2 separate regions of the Homo sapiens genome follow, and region 2 is linked to region 1. Evidence: fine-mapped expression QTL. Tissue or cell type: whole blood. Region 1 holds a variant in brackets; the other region holds the start of a gene. All regions are shown on one strand. Distances are from middle to middle.

Region 1 (5,000 bases):
AGTACTGTTCGGCTCTTTGTAGAAAACATGTGCTGGCCTCTATCCAAAGAATGCTCCAAGGACAATTCAGCAAACATTCTGCATTCTCATTGAATTTCTAGCGTTTCAAACACCTAAGGCCTTGGATATTAATTTTAATGTTTGAATAAGAAAGGAAGTCTGTCTTCAGGGAACATCTTTTTCTTTTGACCTAACTTGAGCAGATTTATGATGAATGACACTGGGTAACCTTGAAAATAGTTTCAACCTTCTAAATCTGTACTCAATAATAAATAAATAAATGTTCCTATATGTAAGAAGAAATCATAACTTTAATCATAATGCAGTTTTGGGGGAAAAGGGGCCAAGAGAATGACTCTTTTCTGATGATATATCTCAGGTCCAGATGGTAAATATTTACAGCTTTTTCGCAACTACTCAATTCTGCCATTTTATCATGAAAGCAGTCATAGACAATACGTAAATGAATCGCTATGGCTGTGATCCAATAACACTTTATTTACAAAAACAGGGGGCGGGCTGGATTTGTCCTTTGGCCCGTAGTTGGCCAGCCCCAATATAGATGTCCCCTTGTTCTCAGAGGCGTATTTGCCGTTTCCATGTGTGAAGTGCTTGTGTTTGCTTTCAGTATTCAGTGATTCAGCATCATAAATAATGCTGCCTAGAATTTGCTTAGAACTTTTTTGTCCTTAGAATATACTCCCTGGAGGCCAGGCGCAGTGGCTCACACCTGTAATCCCAGCACTTTGGGAGGCTGAGGCGGGTGGATCACTTGAGCCCAGGAGTTCGAGACCAGCCTGGGCAAAATGGTGAAACCCTGTATTTACTAAAAATACAAAAATTAGCTGGGTGTGGTGGTGGGCACCTGTAATCCCAGCTACTCAGGAGGCTGAGCCATGAGAATTGCTTGAGCCCAGGAGGCAGAGGTTGCAGTGAGCCGAGTTTGTGCCACTGCTCTCCATCCTGGGAGGCACAGTGAGACTTTATCTCACACACACACACACACACACACACACACACACACACAGAGAGAGAGAGAGAGAGAGAGAGAGAGAGAGAGAGAGAGAGAGAGAATATATTCCCTGGAATTGAGATGACTATGCCCAAAGGCACAGATATTTGTGAGGCACCGTTTTTCCTGCACACTGTAAAATGGGCCCTGGGGCTGTGTTTTGCTAACCCCGGAGTAACTCAGGACCAGCTCTGCAGAATCTGGATTAATCGGTACTTTCAATCTGTCTTTCCTTCCTCCATTTTAATATGAGACATTCTCTGCTTTGAGCTGAATGCATTTAACAACCTATCAGATAATCCAGGTGATGTGATCTTGACACTGGAAGCCATCATTCATTCTTTCAGCGGGTGTATAGGAAGGCCCACCTTTGCCGATATGTGCTGGGTGTCATCCAGCGGTGGGTAACCGAATAAGCCCACCCAGTCCTCGGGCGGGCGAGGGGAGCAACAGGGCAGAGTTAGACGTGGTGATCGCTTCTGAAAACCCAAGGCCCTTCTGCCACGGTGTCTTGGCCTTTAGGGAAGACAGGGCTTCCTAACAGTAGGGAAGGAATTAGGTAACAGAGTGAGACCCTGTCTCAAGAAAAAAAAAAAAAAAAAAGAAGGATTAGCACGGATCACTGCTGTGGCCCTGAAAAGCCACCAATAAGTGATAGCCATTCTTTTCTTGTCCTATTAAAAACTTTAACATCATTTTTTTATTGTAGTAAAATATATGTAACATAACATTTTCCATTTTAAGCATTTTGAAATGTACATGTGGCACTAATCACATTCGTAATGTTGTGAAACCAACACCACTGTCTGTTGCCAAAACTTTTCATCATCCCAAACTGAAACTCCATACCCGTTAAACACGAACTCCCCATCGCCCCTCCCTCCAGCCCCTGGCAACCTCGAATCT[G/A]TGTTCTGTCTGTATGAATTTGCCTGTTCTAGAGAGGGTTCGTATAAGTGGAATCATGCAATGTTTGTCCTTTGGTGTCTGGCGTCTTTCACTTAGCATCATGTTTTTGAGGCTCATCCGTGTTTCAGCATCGGAACTTCATTCCTTTTTACAAGTGAATACTATCCCCGGTATAGATAGGACACATTTTGTTCATCCATTCCTCCGTTGCTGGACGCTTGGGTCTTTCCACCTTTTGCTTATTGTGATAGTCTACAGTAAACATTGGCATACAAGAATTCATTTGAGTCCCTGCTTTTCAGTTCTTTGGGGTATATACCTAGGAGTGGAATTGTTGAGTCATATAATAGTTCTATATTTAACTCTTTGAAGAATCCCTGTTTTCCTTTCTTAACAAGCATGGCTGGGTGCGGTGAGTCACGCCTGTAATCCCAGCACTTTGTGGGGCTGAGGTGGACCGATTGCCTTAGCTCAGGAGTTAAGACCAGCCTGGGCAACATGGGTGAAACCTCACCTCTACAAAATAATACAAAAAATTACCCAGGCATGGTGGCCCATCCTGTAGTCCCAGCTACTTGGGAGGCTGAGGTGGGAGGATCACCTGTGCCCAGGAGATGGAGGCTGCAGTGAGCCATGATCACGCCACTGCACTCCAGCCTGGGCAACAGAGTGAGACCCTGTGTCGAAAAAGAAAAAGAAAGAAAACATTTTTTATTCCTTCCTCTTCAGGGTATAATCCAATGATCCCGGCAGAAAATATAGAAAATGTGGTGAAGCATGTTGTCTTGGTTCACCAATCCGTGGACCACTACAGCCAACAGTTTCTACAGAAATTGAGGCGCAGCAACTATGTCACTCCCAAGAACTACCTTGATTTTATTAACACCTATTCAAAATTGCTGGATGAGAAAACTCAGTGTAATATAGGTAAGCCTTGGGGATGGGGTGGTTGACAAAAGTCATTATTATTTATGGGTAAGGATTCGAGCGCTGATCTTTTCTTTAGTAAGATGGGGCATCTTCAGTATTGAGGCCAAACGAAGCACATCTTGGATTTTGTGTCTTGGAGCGATTCTTTCATGTGGGCAGGACCCTGGCATGTCCTTATTTTTGTTCTCAGTGTTGAGTCTTAGACTTTGAAGCTTTACATTTTGATCACATTAGCAATTTTTAAATTTTATTTTTTATCTTAGGGATAGGGTCTCTGTTTCCCAGGCTGGAGTGCAGTGGTGCAACCATGGCTCACTGCAGCCTCGACCTCCTGGGTTCACGTGCTCCTCCCGCCTCAGCCTCCTGAGTAGCTGGGACCACAGGTGCAGCCACCATGCCTGGCGCACATTAGAGACAACTATCTGCTGCAGCAGCATGCACTGCCGGACAGGGCTTTTTAAAAAGTGCTCTGGCTGTTGGCCAAGGGAAGCACTGTCTTCAGAAATACATTCATTTTGGCTGATGCTGTCCCAAGTATGGCAGTGGAGGTACTGAAAGACATGTGCCATCTTGTAAAAATGTTTTGTTTTGTTTTTGATAAGCTGAAGTTAGGCAAATCTCAGTGATTGTGTTGCGAACAGTGGCCACCTCGACGATGAACATAGGTGCCCTCTTTCCTCAGCTCAGTGCAAGCGTCTGGATGGGGGACTGGACAAGCTGAAGGAGGCCACCATCCAGCTGGACGAGCTGAACCAGAAGCTGGCCGAGCAGAAGATCGTGCTGGCGGAGAAGTCCGCCGCCTGCGAGGCCTTGCTGGAGGAGATCGCCGTCAACACCGCTGTAGGTGAGTGAGGGCGGGGCCAGGGCAGCCCATCCCCAACACCCAATACCCACCGTAGGTGAGTGAGGGCGGGGCCAGGGCAGCCCATCCCGAGCAGGACAGGGCTCTGCCAGGCCGTCCCTGTGAAACTGCTTGTAGGCACTGAGCGTGCCATCTTTGACCCTGCAATTCCTGTTTTCTTTCTGAATTCGTGTCCAGCCAGTCTTGTCCCCTTTCATAAGCACTGAGAAGCTACCATATGTAGGCCCCTGCGCTGGTAGCCTGAGGATGTTCAGGGGAGTGGAAAAGTCACTCGACCCTCTATGGGCTGGTGAACTAAGTCCGTGGGGTTGAAATGACCTAAGCCTTGGCACCATCGACGCGGGACTTTCTTGGTTCTTGAAGCTGTTTCAAGGTTCTTTCTTGGGCCCCTTCCCTCGGTCTTCTTGGCCGAGCCTCTGTGTCACCTGCACTGTCCTGCTCTTGACGACTCTACCCTCTCGCGATGCCTGGCACAGGACGGCTCCTGCAGCCCACAGCTCTGTGCCTGGCCTCTAAGCCTCCTCTCTAGGTCTTTGGGCCAGTGGCTTCTGATGTGTACCCTCCCCAGCTTGTTCCCAGATTCCTGCAGATGCCGCTCAACCTGCCTGCCTCTTCCTTCTCCTGCTGGTCCGTGTTCGTGTTGCTGCTAAGTGTCATCTCGGTTCAGTTCCTTTGTCATTGCACCCGGCCCTGTGCACAGGATCCATTTGTCATCACTCTGGCAACAGCACCTTAACTTGGTGTTGGCAAACTGCCTCTCCCCGACTCCCAGTGCCTGCCATCAGGATGGGCTTATTCTAACCCTGACAGACCAATTAGATGTTCTCTGGGACTGCACATTTTGAATCAGCCAATATAAAGACTGAAGATTATTTGTGTTCATTCATTGCACAGCAGCGCCGTGAAGAGACTGCATTCAGTGCCCGAGCCCAGATCCCTGAGGCGCCTCTAGTTTATGTGTTTCAGCATCTTCCATGTCTGTGAGCTACCATATCTTCTTAAAACAATTTCACGTTTTTCTTAACTCGACCATCATTAGCTTCTGTTGCTTGCAACCAAAGCAACTTAATCGATAGATATCCTTTCCCAGGAATTTGTGGCATATCCCTGCTGCCTGTTTTGATGCTGAGTCCTCACTGTGGCCGTGAAGGGTCCCATCAATCCCTCTATGTCATCTTGCCTACCTAATTTCTCATGACACCCTGTCGCCTGCTCACAGCATCACTTCTTCATGCCTGTGTGAGTCCTGCAGTAACTTGCTCTTTCTCTCCCTTTGGTCTGCTAAGAATA
Region 2 (5,920 bases), 140 kb before region 1:
TTTAAAACAAACAACAGAGTTAATCTGTCACCTGAAGTTGCCAGATAATATTTTCCAACAGCTGAAGTAGGGATAGTTTTTTAAAAAATTTAATGATGGGTAATCAAAACATTCACATTTATTCTGCTGGATTTAAAAATATGTACTTTTTTTTTTTTTTTGAGATGAAGTCTTGCTGTGTCACGTAGGCTGGAGTGCAATGGCACGATCGTGTCTCATTGCAACTTCCGCCTCCTGGATTCAGGTGATTCTCCTGTCTCAGCCTCCCGAGTAACTGGGATTACAGGCATGCGCCACCGTGACCAGCTAATTTTTTTGTATTTTTGTAGAGATGGGGTTTCACCATGTTGGCCAGGCTGGTCTCGAACTTCTGACCTCAAGTGATCCACCTGCCTCGGCCTCCCTAAGTGCTGGGATTACAGGCGTGAGCCACCATGCCTGGCCAAAATATGCAAATATTTTTTATCCTGTGCTACCTAGAATTACAAGTAGAGGATTGTTTTTACAATTTTGTCTTGTTTTAGTAATTGGGGACAATGGGATAAAATGACATACAACAAATGGTTATCCCACTTGTATATTTTTTTAAAGACTCTTATCCTGTTACCCTTACATAAAACCAGTTATGATAATTGTATGTTTGGAAGATAAATTGTATGCTGAGCCTTAAAACCCAGTGTGACTGTAGAAGATATAATGCGGACATGATTTGAATTTAGTGACAGCTTGGCTGATGTCACTGAACCAGAAGGGTTTATACTGAGTGAAGGAAAGGTAAAAAGTAGTATTTTGTATATTTTTGTAACAAAATATAAATGAAGATATTTTACCATGAAGAGATTGCACTTATCCTTGAGAACAGTCTAAATATAAATGAAGATATTTTACCATGAAGAGATTGCACTTATCCTTGAGAACAGTCTAATGATACTTTTTTTACTTTCAGACTGTTTCTAGCTAAAGTTCTGATAAAAGTATTGAGTTAATTTAAACTTTCAAACACTGTTTAGATCAGTTGAAAACTAATTCTTAATAGCCATTGTTTTATAATCTTTAGTTTAAATTCATCTGTTTGACATTTGGTTTTTTGTGAACTTGAGTCAGTCCTATTGAACATTTTGACCTATATTCTTGCAAATTATGTTAATTTTTCATATTTTAGTTTGATTTTAGACAATTATTTTCAAAAAGAAACCTGACTTTTTTTCACCTTCTTGACATTGTGAGTGATACACGTTAAAAGGCTATTTGCCCGCATCCTCCTCTATCCTGTTTCGAGGTAGAGAGCTTGGCACTTCTGTTACAAGCTGAGAGTCTGGAGGTGCTGAGTTTAACGTGGCTGTGCAGCTGATTTCAAGGCATGAGCTGAACAGCGTTGACACAGCCGTGACTTACAATTAAACCCTTTCAATTACAGTACAGATTCTGTGTGCTACTTGATGAGATGTTACCCAAGGCCAGTTTGGACTTACTGCTTTTTGTCCCTCATATTAAATTATCAAATGATGCCGATGAAATGCTTGAAAATGATTCTGCTCTCAAAGTTATGCTTCCCTAGAAAGGTGTCATGTCGGGCACTTGTGTTGGGTGACTATGACATCCCAGCAGTGCTGGTCAGGTCTCAGAGTTGCTTTCACCTAGAGCTGATGCTTCCACAAGGGGACATTTGTGTTACTTTGCTCCAGGGGTCTGTCATAAAAACAATGGTAACTACTTCATCCCTAGGAAGCCCAAGACTTCAGGGCACTGTTAGCTGATTGGTAAATAAGGGACACGATATTCACGGGAATTGTTTACTGCTCCCCACTAGTAATTCTCATGGGGCCACTTTTTTAACTCTTTCTAATTAACACCTCTTCTCAGCATAGAGCAGAGGATGCAGTCATTTCTCTGTTGAAATCTATGTAGTATTTATGTAGAATGTCATTATATGAAAAGCGAATTCAGAATCCTAACTCTGGGAAAGCGCTCTCTGGAAATGTAGTTTGATAATAGTGTCTTATAGGGGCCACGGGAATTTGTTTCTCTATAAAGCGATGGGCTCCAGTGTCATGTTACCAGAGTTATCGCTCAGTTTTGTTTGTTAAGGCTTTTGCTAGAACCTATTATGTATCCAGTTTTTAAAACATACTTCATTCCCTTGATAGCAGAGATCCAGAGCACAGATGGCAAGTTGTGTGGATGATACTGAATATGTTTATTTTCCTAAAGATAAATGTCACGACACGACATTTCTCAGTTTTTATTTAGATGTTTATTACCATGTGTTAACAGAATCTTAAAACCCAAGGGATTTCTTCAGTAAACTAGACTTTGATTCAACCTGCTGGGCTGGAGACTGTAATTGCCGTGGTCAGTTAAGGAGTGCAAAGGGTGTTCTGTCTGATAGGATCTGGGTGAGCCCTGCGGACTTTCCAGCAGCGAAAGGACTTGGAACTCCTCTTTCGCTGAATGCTGCTCTGTTTCTGGAATGGATATTTTATAACAACATTCTGGTGTCAGCATCCCCTCAGCAGTTGTTTATTTAAAAATTTTTTTATTTTTTTTGAGACAGTGTCTCACTCTGTCACCTAGGCTGAAGTGCAGTGGTGCAGTCTCGGCTCACTGCAACCTCTGCCTCCTGGGTTTAAGCAATTCTCCTGCCCTAGCCTCCCGAGTAGCTGGGATTACAGGCGCCTGCCACAGTGCCCGGCTAATTTTTGTATTTTTAGTAGAGACAGGGTTTCACCATGTTGGCCAGGCTGGTCTCAAACTCCTGACCTCAGGTGATCTACCCACCTTGGCCTCCCAAAGTGCTGGGATTACAGGCGTGAGCCACCGCGCCTGGCCCTCTGCAGTTGTTTAATAAGGCACAGAATACCTGTAGCATAGGTCAGCCTTACGATGTCCATGAATTACATATTCAGACGTTTTAGAGCCTGATACATTTTGGAAAAGAAAAACAACTTCTACACCTATTCTACAGTCCGCATTTAAAACAATAAATTCCTCTATTAAAAACGTAAAGCCGGGTTTGCTTGCGTGCCACAGGGAATATATCCAGGAAGGTTATTATGAAGCTGTCAAATCAAGATGATGGGAATAAGGCAGTTTGAACGAACAGTCTTCCCACAGTCAGGCCATTTTTGCTGATTTGGTTTAGAATTTTCAGAAATACTTAGTACACTCCACCTGTTCTTTGATGGGAATATCTAAGAAGGCTAGGTAGGTTCTTAGGGTTAGCCTGAGTCATCTAGGGGCTCAACTCCTTGTGAGGGGAAATGACAGTGAACAAGTTAGTACTTTGCTCCACAAATGCATGAAAGGACAAATTTGCATCTTCTATCAGTATTTAACTTCCTTTTGCTAATGACAAATAAATATATCTATATTTTTAAACGTGGGTGTTTTGCTTTATTATGCTCTAGTTTGGCAAGAAAGCTAAAGAACTCTGCTCCTTCCCTGATTTTGTAGGCCATGAGGAACTCGTGCTTTCTCGGCTTATTTCCTCCTCGTCTGGCCTCTAATCCCGCCTCTGCCACCGCCGAGGTGCTGTGACCTTCGTCTCGCCAACTCTCTAGCCCCAGCTTCATCTGCAAGGTGGGCGGGCTGCTTGCAAACCGGTCGGCGTGGGGTGGGGTCGCACCCTCGGCTGCAGCGGCCCGAGGGCGGCTCCTGGCGGCGAGGGTCCCGCTCCGCATCCAGGGGCGTGCGCGCTGCCGGGGCCAGGGAGCAACCAGCCTACCTCGGCGGCCCGGGGGCCTGGTGCGCGCCTCCGAGATCCCGGGGCCGGGGCGTGGGCTGCGGCTCGCGGGTTCGGGATCGAGGGGCCGGGCGCGGGGCACTGCCGAGCTTGCAGCCCCCAGCGCCGGCGCCGTCGGCGGGGCGAGCTGCGGCCGTTTCCGGGGCGCCCATTGCTAGGGCCGCCGTTGCCACGGACGCCCGCCCTGCGCCCGGCTCCCTCTGCACTGCGCGGCGCCATGGACGACCTGCGGGTGCTGTGGATGCGCGACCGCGTGTATGCGGCTTTCGGCATCACCGACCCCCAGCTTTTCGAGGACCTGCTCAACCGCGACGACGGCCAGGGCGAGGACCTCATCTTGCACTTCCTCAACCAGGCGAGCGAGGAGGAGGGGCCCTCGGCGCTCTTCATCTACCGCACTATGGTGCCGGAGGAGGTGGAGGTGGAGATTGGTGAGCCTCGACGCGCCGCTCCCTTCCCCGGGCTTCCCTCCTGCCCGTCCCGGCCTCTCCGGCGGGCGCCGGGGCTGCTAGAGCCTGCCCATCGTCCGGCCCCGGCCTCAGGTGCTGTCCACAAACGCTGCCGCCCGCCACGTGCAGGCCCCGGGCGAACCCAGCAATCACAGCCGTCCCTGCCCTCCTGGGCCCACAGCCCACTTGAAAGTCAGGCCTTGATTGAAAAATCACAGCAAACACTGACTTAGCCCGCACCCCGTGCCAGGTGCGGTTCCAACGCTTGTATCAACTCCTTAACCCTACGAGGCGGGTGTATCCTCATCCCTATTTTACAGATGAGCAAACTGGCACGGAGGGGGTTAAGTAACCTGCCCAAGGCCCACGGGGCGTCAAGATCCACTGTGCAATAATCCGAACGGCTGGGTAGAGCCATGCCCAGGTGTGGCAGGGACCCAGGTCACTGTCACTCTCCTTGACGGTCGCAGCCTCTCACGGAGGGTCCGAAGAGCACCCCTTTCTACTTCTGGAGGCTCCTTATATCCTAAAAAGTAAAATAAGGCTAGGACAAAGTTTAAAAACTACAGTAGACTTTAAATGTTTATGTTGAACAAATTAGCATCGCAAATACAAAAAGACAGTGACCAGGGTCCCAGAACCCTCTGTGGAGGCGGATCCCCAGCCCCACCTACTCTCTGATAGGCCAGGGACACTGAGAGGGCAGGGAGGGGCCAGCACAGGTGAGAGGAGGAGGCAGGACAACTCGCTTCAGAAACAGCTAGAAGGAGACTGGGACCTCGAAAGCCGCCTCCTCGCAGGAGCACCAGCTGGAGCACAGCTACCGGGACCTCCTGCCTGGCTGTCCAGTCTCCTGGGCTACTTTTCCAGCCCCTTAAGGACTTGGGGATCCCTTGCAGGGCCTCTCACTGGGTTCGGGTGGCAGGGCCGGCAGACCTTTGATTTTTTTTTTAAAGGTACCAGGCAGATTCATTTATTGTATTCTATTTTTTAACTTTTTTTTTTTTTTTTTTGAGATAGGGTCTCACTTTGTCACCCAGGCTGGAGTGCAGTGGTGCGATCTTGACTCACTGCAACCTCTGCCTCCAGGGCTCAAGTGATTCTCCCACCTCAGCTTCCTGAGTAGCTGGGACTACAGGTATGCGTCACCATGCCTGGCTAATTTTTATATTTTTGGTAGAGACAGGTTTCACCATGTTGCCCAGGGTGGTCTCAAACTACTGAGGTCAAGTGATCCTCCCGCCTCGGCCTCCCAAAGTGCTGGGATTCCAGGTGTTAGCCATCTGGCACCTGGCCACTTCTTTTTTTTTTTTTTGAGACAGAGTCTAGCTCTGTCGCCAAGGCTGGAGTGCAGTGGTGCAATCTCGGCTCACTGCAACCTCCACCTCCCTGGTTCAAGCAATTCTCCTGACTCAGCCTCCCAAGTAGCTGGGATTACAGGCACCCATCACCATGCCTGGCTGATTTTTGTATTTCTAGTAGAGACAGGGTTTCACCATGTTGGCCGGGCTGCTCTTGAACTCCTGACCTAAAGTGATCTGCCCACCTCGGCCTCCCGAAGTGCTGGGATTACAGGTGTGAACCATCGCGCTTGGCCACCTTCATTTATTTTAAATATTCATTATTTGCTTGCACAAAATAAAACGCCTTCATCATAAATCCAAAACCATAAATAAACAACAATAACAAATCCCTAGTGCCATCTGGAGAGAGGACCACGTGATCACGT

What was found. PIP is the estimated chance that this variant, and not a neighbour inherited with it, causes the effect.
Region 2: it holds the start of DNAH10, and the variant in region 1 is fine-mapped to the expression of DNAH10 in whole blood (TOPMed, PIP 0.96).

Annotation. Positions count from the first base shown.
Region 1 is chr12:123,895,123-123,900,122 of GRCh38, forward strand. It overlaps DNAH10 (dynein axonemal heavy chain 10), which reads left to right. Exons shown (of 79, transcript NM_001372106.1): 55 at 2,648-2,845; 56 at 3,531-3,692. Among named protein-coding and RNA genes, the nearest start is that of DNAH10OS, 37 kb to the right of the region's middle. RefSeq lists an enhancer at 3,704-4,204. The variant G/A (reference allele first, on the strand shown) is at 1,919.
Region 2 is chr12:123,758,378-123,764,297 of GRCh38, forward strand. DNAH10 (dynein axonemal heavy chain 10) reads left to right here and starts at 3,924. Exons shown (of 79, transcript NM_001372106.1): 1 at 3,924-4,173. The coding sequence starts at 3,960. ATP6V0A2 (ATPase H+ transporting V0 subunit a2) reads left to right here. Exons shown (of 20, transcript NM_012463.4): 20 at 1-3,378. RefSeq lists a silencer at 3,505-3,924.